2 separate regions of the Homo sapiens genome follow, and region 2 is linked to region 1. Evidence: fine-mapped expression QTL. Tissue or cell type: esophagus muscle. Region 1 holds a variant in brackets; the other region holds the start of a gene. All regions are shown on one strand. Distances are from middle to middle.

Region 1 (10,683 bases):
AAGATCTTTCAGTGCACAGAGATAGGAAATACAATAAAAATATTGTGAGTTCATGTTGATATTCCCTATTCAAATTCCTGACTACAGAAGTTTTACTTTATCTCGTTGACCTAACATGTGTATCGCTTTTCTTCCATACCAAAAATCCTGGCTGTTAACATCACAATCATAGTCTTAGACATAACAATACCCACCCTATTGCTTATTGTATGAATACTGAAAACAATTTAAAATTTATTATTAACTTTTTTGGAGTTGTTTTTGTCCTTAAGGTAGATCCTACTTGGAATGTCCAGTTAAATTACTGTGTTATAAAGTCACTTGTAGTTCTTTTCTGTGGTTATGCTACTGAATGCCTTATTTTACTTTTGATTTTTAGACTGCATTTTTATTGTGTAATTTGTGTCTTATTGCTCTTAAGAGTTTTTAATATATTGAAAATATTAGTCCTTTATTATATATGTTACTTTTTCTCCTTTCTAGTCAATCATTTGTCTTTTAATTATGTTCATGGAGTTCTTTGCTATAAAGAGATTTTAAGTTGTAGCTGTCTAATTAATCAGTGTTTTACTTTGTAATTTCTGCTTTTGGTGTCATAATTAGGAAGGTCTTTTCCATTCTAAGACTTCTACATGTTCATCTATATTTTCTTTTACTAGTTTAAAAAGTTTTAAAATTTTGAATATTTAATATATCCGGATTTTTTGAGGGGTGTTAGCAGTAAGTTAGGAATCTATTTTATTTTTACAATTAGCCAGTCATCTCAGCAGCATTACTTGACAATTCATCCTTTCTTCACTTAAAAAATACCTGCTTCATCAAATGTAAATTATTGTATGTGGTTAGTCTATTCCTGGACTTTCTGTATATTTCATTAATCTGACTATTCTGTTACTATTCTGGTATTGCACAGTTTTGTTTTTAAAAATTCATTTTTAATTGTGGTAAAATAACCCATAAAATTTATCATCTTAACCACCTCTAACTGTATTGTTCGGTGGTGTTGAGTATATGAACACTCTTGTGCAACCAATTTCCAGAATTTTTCGTCTTCCCCAACAGAAACTTTATACCCATTAAACAATTCCCTATCTCCCCCCACCCAGTTGCAGGCAACCACCATTCTACTTTCTATTTCTATGATTTTGACTACTCTAAGTACCATGTATGGTAGTATCATACAGTATTTGTCTTTTTGTGACTATCTTATTTCACTTAGCATAATGTCATCAAGGTTTATCCATGTTGCAGTGTGTGTCACAATTTCCTTTTTAAGATTAAATAATATTCCATTGTATGAATATATATCATTAAAGAATCCATTTGTCTGTTGACACTTGGGTTGCTCCCACATCTTGACTATTGTGAACAGTGCTGCTATAAACACAGCTGTGCAAATATTTCTCCAGGATCCTATTTTTAACTTTTTTGGATATATACCCAGAGTGGAATTACTGGATCATATAGTAATCATATAGTCTATTTTTTTATTTTTCAGGAACCTGTATACTGTTTTCCATTTTATTTTCCCACTGACAATGCACAAATGTTCCTATTTCTCCCCATCTTTGCTGACACTTGTTATTTTCTGTTTTTAAAAAAATATCAGCCATCCTAATGGATGTGAAATAATATCTCATTGCAGTTTTGATTTGCATTTCCCTAATGATTTGTGATGTTGAGCATCTTTTTATATGCTTGTTGGCCATTTGTGTATCTTCTTTGAAGAGATGTTTATCCAAGTCCTTTGCTTATTTTAAAATTGGGTTATTTGGGTTTTTTGTTGTTGAGTTATAGGAGCTTTATATATTGTGGGGTTAGATATGATTTGCAAATGGTTTTCTCTCATTTTATAGGTTGCCTTTTACTCTGTTCATTTTGTGTTTTGATGCAGAATTTTCAATTTTTATGTAGTCACGTTTATCTATTTTTACTTTTATTGCCTGTGTTTTGGTGTCATCTCCAAGAAATCCTTGCCAAATCCAATGTTGTGAATATTTCTCCCTATCTTTTCTTCCAAGAGTTTTATAGCTTTAGGTCTTATATTTAGGTCTTTGATCCAGTTAAATTTTGTATATGTTATAAGGTGGGGAGGGGGGAGGTCAAATTTCGCTATTCCGGACATGGATATCAAGTGTTCCTAACACCATGTGTTGAAGAGACTGTCCTTTTCCCATTGAATGGTCTTAACACCCTTGTTGAAAATCATGTGACCATATATGCAATTTTTATTTCTGGGGTCTCTATTCTACTCCATGGGTCTACATGTCTGTCTTTATACTAGTACTACACTATTTTGATTATTATAGCTTTGTCATAAATTTTGAAATCAGGAAGCATGAGACCTTCACTTTTGTTTTCCTTTTTCAAGATTGTTTTGGCTATTCAGGGTCCCTTGAGATTCCATATGAATTTTAGGATAGATTTTGCTATTCCTGCAAAAAATGTTGGGATTTTGATAGAGATTGCATCACATTTGTAGATTATTTTGGGTAGTATTTACATCTTAACAATACTAAGTCTTTCAATCCATGATCACATGATGTGTTTCCATTTATTGGTGTCTTCTTTAATTTTTTCCAGCAATGTTTTGAAGTTTTTAGTGTACAAATCTTTTGTTTGCTTGATTTGGTGTATTATTATCTTATTCTTTTTGATGTTATTATAAGTGGGATTGTTTTCTTAATTTCTTTTTCAGATTGTTCATTATTAATGTATAGAAATGCAACTGATTTTTGTGTGTTGATTTTGTATCCTTTAACTTTGCTGAATCCATTTATTGGTTCTAACAGTGAGCTATTCTTAGTCATGGAAATTTTATCATATGTTTTACCATCTTGCAAGACACAGATACTCTGATTATTTTTCTCTTTTAGAATTTTATATTGGCTATTTTTCAAATTTGAAATCACATCACATTCTTGTGAGGCCATCCCAATCTCCACATATGGATGAACGCATGGAATGCTCTGATGGGTAGGTGCCTTCATGAATTCTAATTAGAAATCTTCTTTGAAGTTGAGTCTTGAACCTTAGTTGTGGGCATCTTCTGAATACTTCTAAGCAGAAAGTCTCATTTCTCGCAATTCTTCCTGTTCTGGATTCTCATTAGGCTAGTTCTCTGTAATGCAGGAGTATAGTCCCTGGTAGTGTGAGGTAGCATTGTGCTATAGGCTGTTAACAAAAAGTTTTGCAGTTGATCCAAGGTTGCTAACTTTTATTTTGCCAAGTCAGCACATAAAATAAAGTATGCAACAATCACCATCATTTTATAAAGGACACTTTAATACCAGAAGAGTAAGAAGATAAGACTCTCCAAGAATGGACAATTGGCCTCATACTTTGTCTTAGACAAATGAAAATTTAGCAATGGACCAGCTCTGGCCCACAGCCTAGCACTTGGGAGCTGCTGCACTGGTTTGTGTCTTTGGACCATACCAGCTCTTCCCTTCCATGACTGCATGGTTCAATATAAAAAGGGAAAATTTAATTAGCTATATTTTCTGAGGTAAACTGAAGAATGTCCTGAACTTATACATATAGGGATAACATTGATTGGAAATATATAATAGGTTTATAGTGACAACCTGAAAAAGGTTTTTATCACCTGAAAACCTGAGCCCACAATTTAGGAAGTAGAAGATGCTCTGGTCTTGTGGCTGGAACCTAGTAGTGGTGTGTAACTGAGATAAAGATGAAGACCATTTTCAGCTTTAGAAAATCCAAAGTGAATTACATATTTATAATAAGCTGACTCACATGCTATAACCAAATTCTAGGCTTTTAGGGAATCTAAGTAAAGTAACCTCTAAAATCAACAGAGCATCAAGTGTGATTCTGCACTTTTCTTCTCTTCCCCGTGTCTCTCATTGCCAGTTTCTTCTTTCTTTCTTTCTTTCTTTTTTTTTTTTTTTTGAGATGGAGTCTCACTCTGTTGCACAGGCTGGAGTGCAGTGGCCTGATCTCGGCTGACTGCAACTTCTGCCTCCTGTGTTCAAGTGATTCTCCTGCCTCAGCCTCCTGAGTAGCTAGGATTACAGGCATGCGCCACCATGCCCAGTTAATTTTTGTATTTTTAGTAGAGATGGGGTTTTACCATGCTGGCCAGGCTGGTCTCGAACTCCTGACTTCAGGTGATCCACCTGCCTCGGCCTCCCAAAGTGCTGGGATTACAGGTGTGAGCCACCGTGCTTGGCCTCACTGCCAGTTTCTGAGGGGAGCTGCGAAGGTCCGCTAAGTCCTCTCCAGGCTTAGGTGGAAAGGATGTGGAAGGAATTGTCCTGCACCTGTGTGGCCTTCTCTACATCTGTGTTCATGCTTGTGTCTGTTACAAAAGGTTGCAAGCCTATCTCCCTGCTGGATGTAAAGATGCAGGCTCAACGTTTAGCATAGTCGACAGAAAACAGAGCTGCCAGTGGAGACACTAACATGTGTTAAGTTCTTTGGGAAGGAGGTGTCTCTGATGCTTATATCACTTGCATCTGCCCATAGCAGACACTCATCATCTGATAAGCTGAACTGGGCCAATTCCAAGGCAGTAATTGTGCCAGGAGTGTCTTCATGTATTATTCCACCTAATGACAAGACAAGCGAGAAGAGCTAACCTAAGCAGGGAGCCAGAAAGAAAAATGTTTCAAAGGGATAGAGAGGACTTTAAGTAAAGCTTGGGGGCGGCGGGGGTAATATAAGGACCTGATCCAGAAAAGATGGGATGAGCTGAATTGTTCTTCCATTGGCAATAGCTGACCATTGTTAGGCTTTTGTGGAAGAGGAAGCTGCATTTTGTACTCAATAAACTATCAGTGCAATGGATCAAATGATTGGTATGAAAGAATAGAGAAGTGCCCATTGATTCTGCGATTCTGACCTCAATCAGGGATCTTAGAGAGGAGATCAGTGAGAACTTAGACCACATAGCTGATCACTAAGGGTTCATTGAACCCACAGATCCAACGGCCTTTTCTTTGGTAAATTGAGCATAATAGTCACATGGAGGGAGTGCTTTGGGTTCCCCGAGTGAAGGTGATGGGCTGGTTTAAAAGCTGCCACTGCTTCGGTTTTATTTTGTGCATGTCCAGCCAACAGGTGCCTTCCACACGGTGGCACTGTGGGCCACAAAGTGAATGGCTACACAGGCACTTTTTAATGACAGGCTAACTTCACTGTAAGAAATAAGTGGGGCTCCTCCAGCCTGCACCACCACTCATGGTTTGGCAGGACTTGATGAATTGTCTTATTCATCCAGGCAACTCTCCCGTGATTAAAAAACAAAACAAAACACAAAACCCCCAACATTTAAAGATAGAAAATGGAGCAGGACAGGGTATGGCCTCTCTTGCTTTCCTGCATACCCTTGTGTTGCCACGGCCCAGCTGAGGTCCTTGCACAGAAAAGGCAATCAACAAATATTGATGGGTTTCACAACCTGTACCTGCACTCAAGGAGCCTCACTATTAGGAGCTTTTCCGCAGCCTGGAAATATCCAGCATGCATGGCAATCCCACACTGAAAGGTCCTTATGACCCTGTTGCTTCCTCAGCTGCTGTACCATTTCTGTCATTTTGTTTGTGGATACATCTAATTGATTTGTCTATACCGGCTGAATCCTTTTCCTCATTCTGCCAGTTTCTTATATATATTCACTCTTAACTGAATCTGAGCTTTGGCTGACATGCCCTTGAACTGCCCTTGAACTATTCCTCACTCCTCAACTTCCCAGCACATATGCATACCACCACTATTTATTTTCTTTCTTTCTTTTCTTTTCTTTCCTTTTTTTTTTGAAACAGGGTCTTGCTCTGTTACCCAGGCTAGAGTGCGGTAGTGCA[A/G]TCACAGCTCACTGCAGCCTCAACCTCCCAGGCTCAAGAGATCCTCCTCCTGCCCCAGCCTCCTGAGTAGCAGGGACCACAGATCCAGATAACTTTTTATTTTTTATAGAGATGGGGGTCTCCCTATGTTGCCCAGGCTGGTCTTGAACTCCTGGGGTCAAGTAATCCTCCCATCTGAGCTTCCCAAGGTGCTAGGATTATAGGTGTGCACCACTGTGCCTGGCCCCACTGCAATTTTCATTATCTCTGCCATCATCACTACCACCTCCACCTCCACCACCATCATCACCACCACTACCTCCTCCACCTCCACATCCACCACCATCACTACCATCACTCCACTACCACCATCACCACCTCTACCACCACCACAACCACCACCTCCACCACTACCACCTCCACCTCCACCACCACCATCACTACCATCACTCCATTACCACGATCACCACCTCTACCACCACCATCACCTCCACTACCACCTCCACCTCCACCATCACTACCATCATTTCACTACCACCACCACCACCACAACCACCACCTCCACCACTACCACTAACACCTCCACATCTACCACCATCACTACCATCACTCCATTACCACCATCACTACCTCTACCACCACCACAACCACCACCTCCACCACAACCACTTCCACCTCCACATCTACCACCATCACTACCATCACTCCATTATCACCATCACTACCTCTACCACCACCACAACCACCACCACTACCACAACCACCTCCACCACTACCACTAACACCTCCACATCTACCACCATCACTACCATCACTCCATTACCACCATCACCACCTCTACCACCACCACAACCACCACCTCCACCACAACCACTTCCACCTCCACATCTACCACCATCACTACCATCACTCCATTATCACCATCACTACCTCTACCACCACCACAACCACCACCACTACCACAACCACCTCCACCACTACCACTAACACCTCCACATCTACCACCATCACTACCATCACTCCATTACCACCATCACTACCTCTACCACCACCTCCACCACAACCACTTCCACCTCCACCACCACAGCTATTACCACCACCTCTACTACCCCTATTACCATTATTACCACCCTCTTACCACCACCACCATCACTACCACCACCTCCACAAACACCATCTCCATATATTTATGCAAGTAATCTGAACGTTGTTGCCTATTTGTGAAAGTAGCTTCCATTGTAGAATGGGTGAAAGAAACTGAAGATGGAGGACAGGAGCTCCAATTAAAATTCTAGCAGCCACAAACTTGTTTTATGACCTTGGGAAAGTCATGGAACCTTTTGTTTTCTCATCTGTGAAGTGAGGAGGCTGGCAGAGTCAGTCCCCTAGACTTACAGCATATATAATTCCATGAATGCTGCAGGCTTTAGAAATTTACTTGTACCTTTAAAAAGGTTAGTCAATTTACTAATTATAACCTGAAAGTCTTTTTGATATTTAGAAAATCCTCTTGCTTTTTCTTTGTTCTTTGAAAATTTAGAGCTGCCTCATTTCATAATGCCTGAAGCCTATATTTATAATCAGCATCTATTTCATGGTTCCGAGCCGTTTTTCACATAATTGTCTTTTTTTTTTTTTTTTTTTGCTTTAGAATTAGTTCTTTTGTGGCTAATGTATAGCAGAAACAAAATGACTTTTGAAAAAGCCCTTCAGGAATTATGGGGTTCGCTGCTATATCATTAGGGGCCCACACAGCTCTGCGACAGAACTGGGTCTTAGAAGGAGAAGGCAGCCCTGTTCTGGGAGACGGAGGCAGGGGGTGTTTGCAGATCTGCAGTGGGCGTAGATGGTGGTTTGAGGGTGGCCTGGAAGAAGCCAGAAAATGGTAGTCTGGACTTGAGAGAGGAGAGGGATGAGGTGTGTCCAGGGAGGTCTGCAGGGGGCAGTAGATCACAGAGCACAGGGAGGATGAGCGCGGAGGGTGCAGGTGACAGCTCTGTTGCTATGTGGGGCACTCTGGGCCCTTCGGCAGGGAACGTCACCTTACCTAGGACCCCCAGATTAGTAGATCTAGGTGCATTTGGGCTTCACATGTCATGCTGGTGACATCATTGCTTACTTGCGATGTTGAGTCACATGTCAGCCTCCTGTGGATGTTGGCTTCCAGCAACTCCCTCTAATCTTGTTGCTGTGCTTTGTTGTTGAGACCAAATACAAATCCTACCCAGAGTATGCAGAGAATCTGAATGATAATGTTCTGGTCTTGTTAAATTTGCCATTTGAAATTTCATAATGTAAATGTAGCATGACACATCTACCAATCATGTCTTCTCTTTGACTTTTTAGGCCTTAACCCCCACATTCCTAGAATGTGATTTCTTTCAATGTTGACATACCCCTGCCTTCCACACACAGCCATCTGCAGGCCGGCTAGGCAAAAGGCCTGTGGATGGAGTGAGAAGAGCAAGATATGTCCATTGTGCAAGGCATGCCCAAACATTTTCCACCATGGCTTAAAACTGAAGCTGGAGAGCATGATGTCACCATGTCAGCTGGAGGCAAGAAAGGACATTGGTTGGAAGGGACCACTGGTGTTGCAGAGCAACAGTCTCGAAGGCTCTCGGAGGCTATGGCTGAGACCACCCCCAGAGGCCTGCTTCATATGTGGCATGAAGCCCGTGAGGTGTGGGGAGACTGCCCTGGGAGTCAGAGTTGGGCACGCACAAGGTGAACGATGCCTGCTGCCATTGGATGTCATAGACCTGAGGCAGCACTGTGAACAGAACATGGAAGGGTGAGAGTGGATGCATGGGTCCACACATGTGACAATGGGCTTTTGATAGCCCAGAGTTCTGAACTTATTCTGTGAAAAATGTGAGTGAGAGTCACCCTAAGTCAGACCTTCAGCACCATTTTAGGCACCCATACCCTAGGATGCACATCGTGGGATTCGTACTCTGGGATCCACACCTTGGGATCTCACCCTGGTAAGCCCACCTCCCCTTTGTGTTTCTCAAGCCACAAGTGAGTGGTGCTGCCACAGGGTTCTCCATCTAAGGCACGTCCACCTGGGGTATCAATTTTATTTGAATATCTGAGGGGATAAAATTAAGCATTTTAACTGGGAAATAACTTTATCTTTAAACAGTTACAACAGATATAGATGTATTTTGAAGCAGAATGCAACATGCACAATACTTCATACTTAGAGCTGTCCACTTGAGTCCTGGTCCTGCTGGCCTTGCAAGGACATAGGCTATTTCCTCTATGTATTTTTAAAAAATTTATTATCATTATTAACATATAATTAATATAATATAACTTCAGCACGTTAAGGTATACAATTCAGTAGTTTTCAGTATATTCATAATGTGCAACTATCCCCACAGTTCCCCTGTGTTTAAGGGTCCCTTTCATGGAAAGGTTCAGGAAGTGCTGCCTGCCGATGCCACTCTGCCTCCAGAGTAGAATTTGCAGCATCAGTGACAGGAGATAGGGAAAAACCTTTATTAGAGGAGGACTGGGTGTCATGGGGCTGCATTTTCAGCTCCTATCAAGTCCTTCCACTTAGGCAACTCTCCTTCTTTCTATTTGGGAGGCAGACCATTGCTTCGTGTGAGAGCTTGAGTATTCATGCTGTGATGTGTGGATTATCACCCAAAGAAACAAGGATGGAGTTTTCCTGCCATCGACATCACTGACTCACAAAGGACAGCTTAGAAACTGTGAAGACTCCTGAGAGACTAGAAGGGGCTGGACTTGCTTTTAATCAGGTTTCAATGCAGAGACGGGTGTCCTGTCAGTTCCCTTATTCAGAGACACGTTTGTTGTGGCATTAATAAACAAAGTCAGCATTCCCTGGAGACCAACAAAAGCCTGATCCAATGTGAGTTTGTGCGTTTCTGTAAAGATTTGTGGTGGGATTCCAGGCAGTATAAATAATAGTCTTCTACTCACTGCAGATACCTTGACTATTCCTGGGGGCCAGATCCTTGGTTATGTTTTTGTTTTAAATCACATTTTATGCAAATTCACAGGCAGGCTCAAACAATGGTGAGTCCTCTTGTCATTCCTGGCCATTAGCTCAGCTGAATGAAGATTCAGGAGTAGGAAAGCAAGTCTCTGAACTTGCCTCTGCTTTGAGATTTTCTTATCTTGCAGAGTCTCCTGAGATTTTTGCGACAACCATATACCTTCTCAAAGCCGTATAGCAAAGTCTTGCTAGCTTAGATCCTAAATTTCATAATACACACCCGTTGCAAGTTCCAAGAATTCACTGTATCAGAAAATAGCTCCTGCCTCTTTGAGAAATGGTAATTTTTTACGTAGCTCTGAATAACATAGCTATTCTTCATAGACCACATACTGTGTGCTGGATGCTTTACCCATTATCTTTAATCCTCACAACAACCTTGCAAGGTAGGTATTGGCCTCTGTTGACTGGGCTGCTGAGGCTAAGACAGGTTAGTAACTGGCCTGCTTTCACACGCTGGGCTAGGAAGTGCCCCGCCTCAAAATTTCCCAAGACACCCTCCCCAGCTTGTGAACCATACTTCTCAATTGGTCTCATGTCAGGAGAATTGAAACATGGGCTTTGAGTCAGACAGACATGATTCAGATCCTAGCACCAGTAACTACTAGATGAATGACTGGGCAAGTCAGGTAACCTCCCCAAGCCTCAGTTTCCTCAGCTGTAACTGTGATAAAGATGCTTTGGGAGGTAGTTATGGGAATGGAATGAGATGAATGCTTCCAAGTCCCCAGAATGGCATCAGCACATTGCATAGCAGACCAGAATCTCGACAAATGATCCTTCTCTTTTCTTCCTTATTCATCTTTATACATGTTGTGGCACCTGGCACAAAATAGGTACTCA
Region 2 (7,841 bases), 40 kb after region 1:
TCTCAGCCTCCTGCATTTCTAGGATTACAGGTGCAAGCCACTGTACCCAGTGATAATTATGATTATTAACTAAAGTATTATAGGTATCTGCTTTTTGCCTTTCTGTAAACACTTTAAGGCTTACTTCTCTGCTAAAGAGTGATACTTTTCTGGGTTCTAGGTCAAAATTAAACTCTCTGGGAGAATCATTGCAAACTTACATTTCTCCCTCCAGGCATTTCATCCAGCTCCTCTGCTTCAGGTCTCTCTTCCCCAGTTTCCTCGTTAAGCACAAGAAAATACTTTACACAGCTGTTTCTGATGAGAAGTTAGGCATTAGGTCCTGGCTCGTTGTTACTCCTTCCAGCTCCTTTAGGAGCCCCACAGGTGTCATCTCGGGCTGTTTTATCTCCTTGCATTGTTGCCTTTAGCTTTTGAGTTTCTTTCAAGCCTTTTCCTCCTGGTAATCTTCCTGCCCATTCTTACACTCTTTAAATATTTTTTTAAAAATATTTTATTTTTAGAGATGGATGGAGTTTCACTTTGTTGCCCAGGATGGAGTGCAGTGGCATGATCACAGTTCACTGCAGCTTCTAACTCCAGCTCCAGTGATTTTCCTGCCACAGCCTCCTGAGTAGCTGGGATTACTGGCATACACCACTGTGCCCAGCTAGTTTTAAAAAATTTTGTTACTGTAGAGATGGGATCTCATTTTGTTGCCCAGGCTGGTCTTGAACTCCTGGCCTCAAGCAATCCTCCCACCTCAGCCTCCCAAAGTGATGGGATTACAGGGGTAAGTCACCACTCCCAGCTCCTGCCCATTCCTTATCTAAGTCATCAAATAGATATTTGTATTTTGGGGTGCCAATTTGTAGTGTAGCCACTCCTGCTGCATGAGGACTGTCTGCTTTTAAGTCCACAGTCTTCTTGAAGGCCACAGATTTTCAGTGATTTCAAGTACCTCCTTTTCTGCAAACTCAATCCCAAGAAGTGTTTTTTTCTGGCTTTTGGTGAAATCCTCTTCCCTCAACTCAGATAGGCAGAACTGGGGTATACTTCTGTGGTGGCTGCTGGGAACTATCCCCCAGTTCCCATGGTGGTTCAGTCCAGCTTGGTTTTTCACAGCACAATTGGGAGACAGGACACAGAGCAGCACCGACTTCCCCCTCCCCCAGCCCCCTATGCTTGTTGTGTGCCATGCTGGGTTTTGTAGGAGATGCAAGACGGGCACATCAGAGTCCTCTGGCCACAATCTTACCACCGACAGAGCTTACCAATAGATGGTGTTGTGACCAACAGTTTCCAAGAGCCCTCAGTGCATGGCTACTGGCCCTGACATTCACATTTGCTGTCCTCCAGCTGGGATTTGAGGAAAGTCATTTCTTCCAGCTTCCCTAAAATCCTTCTCAGAGAGCCAAGGACCTCTCCTTTCGTGGGTCTGAAACATCTCAGGGTTCCATGAGTGGCAACTGGCTTCTCTCTCTAAGAGCTCTTTGTCTGGCCTGACACGGAATAAAAGTACCTAGCATCACCAATTCTCCCACCTCTCTTCCTCCCTCTCTTCCTCTCTACTTTCTTCCTTCTCACCTTCCCTCCCTCTCTCCCTCACCCACTGTTCCTTTCTTCCTCCTTACTTTTTGAAAAAAATGTGCTTTCCGCCCCCACCCCCATGGCCATATTTACATTCCTCTGTTATTAAATGTTAGGGAATTTTTACATTGCAGAAATTTACCTTAAACCCCTCCTCTTTCCTGATTCCAGGCCATCCCCACCAAAATGTCTAGCTCTGAAATTACACGCTATATATTATCTTGTGTCAGATGATAGTTTACACATATAATTCTATCATATTTGTTTAAATATAAATTAATGGTATATCTTCTTTTGCAATCTCATTGGTTTTGACTATTTGATGTTCAGGGAATTATCTGTCTGGCAGAACTGAAATTAGTGTGGTTGATGTGTTGCAGCCCAGGAAGTTACTACTCAAATGCTCCCTGTGGTAGAGACAGTAGGTGCTCACCCAATAGCTATGTGCTCCTACATCTCCCAGCTCCTGGGGCCATATGGCTAGTTGTGGCCAACGCACTGTGAGTGACATGTGTTCCTTTCAGATTGAAGCAGTTAAGAACTGTTGTGCCTCCTTCAAGCCTTTCTTCTCTTGCCCCAGCAACTTTGAAGAGTGTAGCTACAAGGAGGCTGCTCTTCCCACAGTGGACTTTATGTGGGCAGGAAGTAAACTTTTGTTGTGTCAAGCCATTGAGATGTTTAGGTTTGTTTGTTGCAGCAGCAGACATTAACTACTCTGACTAATAGAGTTCCTGAACTCTAGTCTCTGCAACACAGTAGGCATGCAAGAGATATTTGTTAAATACATGATTGGATGAACAAATGAATCTGTTCCAGGCAGGAGGAGGACCAGGTCCTTTTCTATATATGGAGCCATAATAACAAAAAATTTATAGTACAAAAATGATTTACTGTCCTTTTTGGGGAAGACCTTAACCTGTTTTTAGTTCAATGGCTTGCATAAACACTTAAAATGAACTATTCGTACTATTTAATTCAACTTAGTTTATCAATCCTTTGCTAAATACTCACTCTACCAGGCGCTTTTCTGGGAAATGGGGAAATAATTCTTATCCAGCTGAAGGGAAACACCACATAGAAGCTGAATGACACAAATGTACAAATAACCAAGTTAGTAAGCTAAAGTTCAGACTCAAACAGAACTCCCTTAGCAAAACTGTCCTGATTTCCTCCCCTCCTGACTCTTCCTACTGAATAACCACTTTCTTCCTGGGCTCCAAACACTTGTGTCAAAGCCCCATGACATGTGTTGCCTTTGCTTTGATATTCACACACATGCCTGTCCCCTCTGCTGGAATTTACGGTGCCGACAAGGCCAGTTTTGTGTTGTGTACTCTTTGTAGGTATGCAATAAATGCTTCTCAGATTTGAGAGCAGTGTCACGCGGGGTGAATATGCTCAATGCTATGAGAATGCTCTGGGTTTGGTACAGAGACTTGTGGAATCTTTATTCAATTTGGGGGCTTGAGGAGGTTTGGAGGAAGATTTGTGAGAGGACAGTTGGGGTGGTGGAGGGGGGAATTCAGGGGAGCAGGAGCAATGGATGTCCAGGACCAAGTCCAAGGTATACTGAAAGGACAGAAGAAACAGGATGGGGGAGTAAGAGACTGCCAAGGAAGGTAGGTGAGGGGTTAGGAAGGCTTGGTGTCAGGCTGTTATGTGTGCACCTAGTTAAGCTGGGAATGGGGAACCGTGGAAGTTGTTTGGGTTTTGAAATGTCTAAGGAGATGAGAACTGAGAACTAGGAGTTGGTGACTGAAATACTCCCCTTCATCCTCTGCTATGGTCAAAAAAGCAAACATTCTATAGAGATGAAGGATAGAAACCAGACTGAGAAAGGTTAAGGGTGAGAGGTAGTGGAAAAACTTAGTCTTTTAATTTGGTTTGTCAGTGACCCAGGAGAGAGACAGAACTTGACAATGATCAGGATCAACAGATTTCCCCAGGAAGGAGGCCATATGCATAAGTGAGGAGAAGAGATGAAAGAGGCAAGGAGGAGAGGGGCTGACCAACAGGGCATGATCCCAGACAGGTGGCATGAGGCCTTCAGAGCCCTGCTGGGGAGGTTGACCTTAGCAGGAGAGGTTGACCTTAGCAGGAAAGCAGGGAAGATAATCTTGTTCCATCAAGGGGGAGAGGTGGAGCTATTCTGAGAGGGTGTCATGGAGATAAGATCCGTTGACAGAATAGGAGTGACAAGTCACAGTGGACGCAATGGGGTTTGCCCATTTAGGAGAGTGGGAATATTCAGGAGCCCCATGTATGGAGACTGTGATACACAGTGAGCAAGAGATTGATAATATGTAGTGGGGCCCTGGGGAGAGGTTATTGAACATGAAGTCATAAGACATCATGCCTTAATTTTGAATATGAGGACAATATTTTTTCTTTATATGATAGTTAAAATTAGACATAACTAGCAACTCAACACTCTGTGTGGCATTTCCTGCATCTCACCTCTCCCCTCCCACTACAGCATAATCCCTCCTCAGTCTGGTTCTCTTTCTTTTGGCCAGGTTCTACCTCCCTTGCTTCCCTAAGCAGGTCTTTCCCCGGAGTCAGTCATCCTGTTGGTCCTGCAATAAGTGGCTTCCAAAAAATGGAATAAATAATCAAATTCTTCTACTCTGACACCCATCTTCTATTTCTTTCTGAAAATGAACTTGGATTAGTTGAATTGCTTTTCACAATTCAATTCAGTTTCAAGGGCTCTACAGCCTCTTCACAATTTCTTGCAAATTTATTTCCATCTACTTGTTTATAAAAGGTATTTGTTTCAGAGACATTGTTCTCCTTTCTCCATCACACTCACATCTTGGCCACCCCTTAGAGCCACTAATTAGCTAGAGCTATTATTTTCTTGTTTGCATTTTAAAAATACAAATAGAGCTCCCATATTATTCAGAATGCAAAGTTGCTATGATGCATATTTGAAGTAATTATCTATATTAAAAGCAGGGGTTTAATTTATTTCATCTTTAGGGGTGAAAGGATGTCACATTTATAATTATATTTATATTCTGACATAATATAATTATAATTCTGTAATTATATTTTGATATACATTGATTTTTAGGACAGTATACAAGATATTCTTAATACAAATGCAGCAAAAGGATATTTATAATTTAATGGCAATATTCTTTTTGGCACCCACAGAGACTCCAACTTTGAAAAATTTAATTGAAATGGAAAGAAAATTAAATTAGCTCTCAATAAACTTTTCCAGATATAACAAAATACTCAGCATCCTGCTTCCCTGCTCCCATGTATGTGCAGGCAGGAGCAAGCCACATGCAAGTAATGCACACAATTTATTTTCTCCTTGAGAAACACGAGTTTATTCCAGGTATCATGAACATACCCTTACAATAGACCCATTCTTCTTGAGGCCTGCCTCCTCACTAGCGATTCCTTCGCCTTGAGTATTAACCCTCCCATTTTCTCCTGCATGACTGTTGCCCTATTAGACACGAGCCAGCTTCTCCTTTTATTCACACCTTTCATTCTGAGCCAGAGCTGCCAGGGTCCTCACCCAGAGGTGGGAGTGGGGCTTAACGCAAACGCCCCCTTCCCTGCTCACCTGGTTCACCTGGCTCTACCCCGGGGTGCACGGTGCCTACCTGGAAGTCCCAGGATGGTGAAATAGGGCCTGCATTCGGTGAAGCCTGAACTCTGCCTCACGCAGCTCCTCCAGAGCCCTTCGTACTGGAACACGGAGGTGACGGGGTTGTCGTACAGGTCCTGGGTGCTCCACATGTCCATCCCGGTGGCCGCGATGCAGCCGGCCAGCCCCAGGATGGACAGGAGGAACGCCACCACTTGGCATGTGGTGGTGGACATGATCCTGGCCGCCCGCCCTGCCGCCTGCGAGAAGCTGCCGCCCTCCTGCTGCCGAAGGTGTGAAGCTAACGCGCTCCTGAGGGGAGCTCTTCTAATCAGATGGTTTCCCTAGGCTCTCAGTATTTGCTCACAGTGTTTTCCTTAGATAGCTCAGTTTCGCTCCTGGTTCAAGGGCATTATTTTTACATTTGTTAGAGAAGCGGGCCCAAGAGGCACTTGTCTGCTCTCCGCAGGCCGGGTGGGTTCAGCGCAGAGCCGTGCCAGGGAGCAGAAGGACTCCCTGCTCCGGGCCAGACCGGCCTCCCTCCAGCTCCGGCTCCTCCGGAGAGCGCCGCCATCTGGAGAAAAGGCTGACGTGTCCCCACCACGGGGAACGTGACTGCAGACCACTTTGGCTGACCTCGCTTAAGATGGCCCCTGGGAAGCACCCACCGTGCTCTGTCTTAAACCAGACTTTTCACATTTTCTCCTCACAACTCATGAACGACTTTTTTCACTTACATCTTTCCATTTTGATCTTACAGAAATGGGTAGGGCAGGCACTATTATCCCCATTTTTTGGGGGTGAGTCAAGAAAAGTACAGATAAGTTAAGGGACTTGTCCCAGTGCCTGGAACCACAGATACTCTAAAAACGGCAGGGGTGGGGCTCCCACCTCAGCTTCCAGTCCAGCGCTCTTTCTCTGTTTCCATATGGAGCAGCAGGGGCAGGCAAAATTGTCCCCACTTTTGAGAACACGAAGCCAAATCCTAGATCTATGCTCTTGGTCCATAAGCATTGGAACTGGGATGAGAGGAAGCCAGGGACCCCGTTGATTTCCATGTCATGCTTTCACTCGTGCCACAAGAACCACATGAGGACTCTGTGGCTGACACAGGAGGTCCCACAAAGGCCAGAGGAGGGACCAGGGTTAGCTGGGCTGAAGTCCTTGGCCTGGTCACGGAGAGGCTTAGGATCTGCTCCTGATGCTGCCCCTAACTTGTCGTGTGCTGGGCAGGTTGGGGGCAAACTCCTAAGCCCTTGTAGGTCACAGGTTCTTCATCCACAACATGTGAGATCTAAACTAGAACACTCCAGAGCCTTTTCAGATCTCATACACTATCTTCTACATTTTGCAGAAAAGTTTTCACTAGAATTGGTCAAAATATTAGGAATTGTATAATCACAGTAGAGAGACTTGGCTGAAGACATCAGGTGTTATGTTTTGTCTATACAACTAAATTTTGCTAGAGAATTGGTTGACGGATATGGGGGCCAGGTATGTCTGGCCTCTGAATCCAGAGACTTTTTAAAAATTTTTTGAGATGGAGTCTTGCTCTGTTGCCCAGACTGGAGTGCAGTGTTGTCATCGGGGTCACTGCAAATTCTGCCTCCTGGGTTCAAGCAATTCTCATGCCTCAGCCTCCAGAGTATTTGGAACTATACATGCATACCACCACACCCGGCTAATTTTTATGTTTTTAGTAGAGACAGGGTTTCACCATGTTGCTTACGCTGGGCTCGAATTCCTGAGCTCAAGTGATCTGCTTATCTTGGCTTCCCAAAGTGCTGGGATTACAGGCGTGACTCACTGTGCCTGGCTTCCAGATATATTTTGTTTTTATTTATTTATTTATTTATTTTGAGAGGGAGTCTCACTCTGTCGCCCAGGCTGGAGTGCAGTGGCGCAATCTTGGCTCACTGCAACCTCCACCTCCTGGGTTCAAGCGATTCTCCTGCCTCAGCCTCCTGACTAGCTGAGATTACAGGCGCCTGCCACCACACCCAGCTAATTTTTGTATTTTAGTAGAGATGGGGTTTCACCATGTTGGTCAGGCTGGCCTCGAACTCCTGACCTCAAATGATCTGCCTGCCTCGGCCTCCCAAAGTGCCAGGATTGCAGGCGTGAGCCACTGTGCCCAGCCCTCCGGAGACATTTTAATGACACTCTCCAAAATCTGGACCTCAAGGCCCTGAAACATACACACACACCCACACACACCCCCACACACCCCCACACTCCCCCCCCACATACATACTCCAATCTTTAACCTTTATAGGTCTTTACAGGTTCTCCAGGAAACGAGCCTCTGTGTCTGGACATTTTGTTATCTTGGGTGCACCCAGCCTCTGCTCCCACTGCATTATTCCCAGCAAACACAGAAAGCAAATAGGGAAGAACTACCTCTAATTTGAATGGAGGCAACACTCCCCTTCACTGCACACCTTACTTTAGGTTCTGTGATCAGTGTTTCTAGTGAAGCATGAGCCAGAAAGCCTAAAATAAGAGGGTAAGCAACAGTTACATGATCTACAGTGAAGGAATGTTGATGGCAGTGTGTCCCTTGAGTTGTTACAAGGCCAATTCTAAAAGGAGGGAAGGGAACAGTTAGAAGTGACACTGGTTTCTGCTGGTGGGCATAGATTGACCAATTAGGTTGAAAACTGTT

Evidence for each region. PIP is the estimated chance that this variant, and not a neighbour inherited with it, causes the effect. A credible set is the group of variants that fine-mapping cannot tell apart.
Region 2: CLDN18 starts here. The variant in region 1 is the best candidate, but not a certain one, in a credible set for the expression of CLDN18 in esophagus muscle (GTEx, PIP 0.51).

What each region holds. Positions count from the first base shown.
Region 1 is chr3:138,046,799-138,057,481 of GRCh38, reverse strand. It overlaps LOC105374128 (a long non-coding RNA gene), which reads left to right and starts at 1,722. Exons shown (of 2, transcript XR_001740930.2): 1 at 1,722-2,976; 2 at 8,154-10,683. RefSeq lists an enhancer at 9,806-10,459. The variant A/G (reference allele first, on the strand shown) is at 5,829.
Region 2 is chr3:138,007,797-138,015,637 of GRCh38, reverse strand. It overlaps CLDN18 (claudin 18), which reads right to left and starts at 5,473. Exons shown (of 5, transcript NM_016369.4): 1 at 5,193-5,473. The coding sequence starts at 5,412.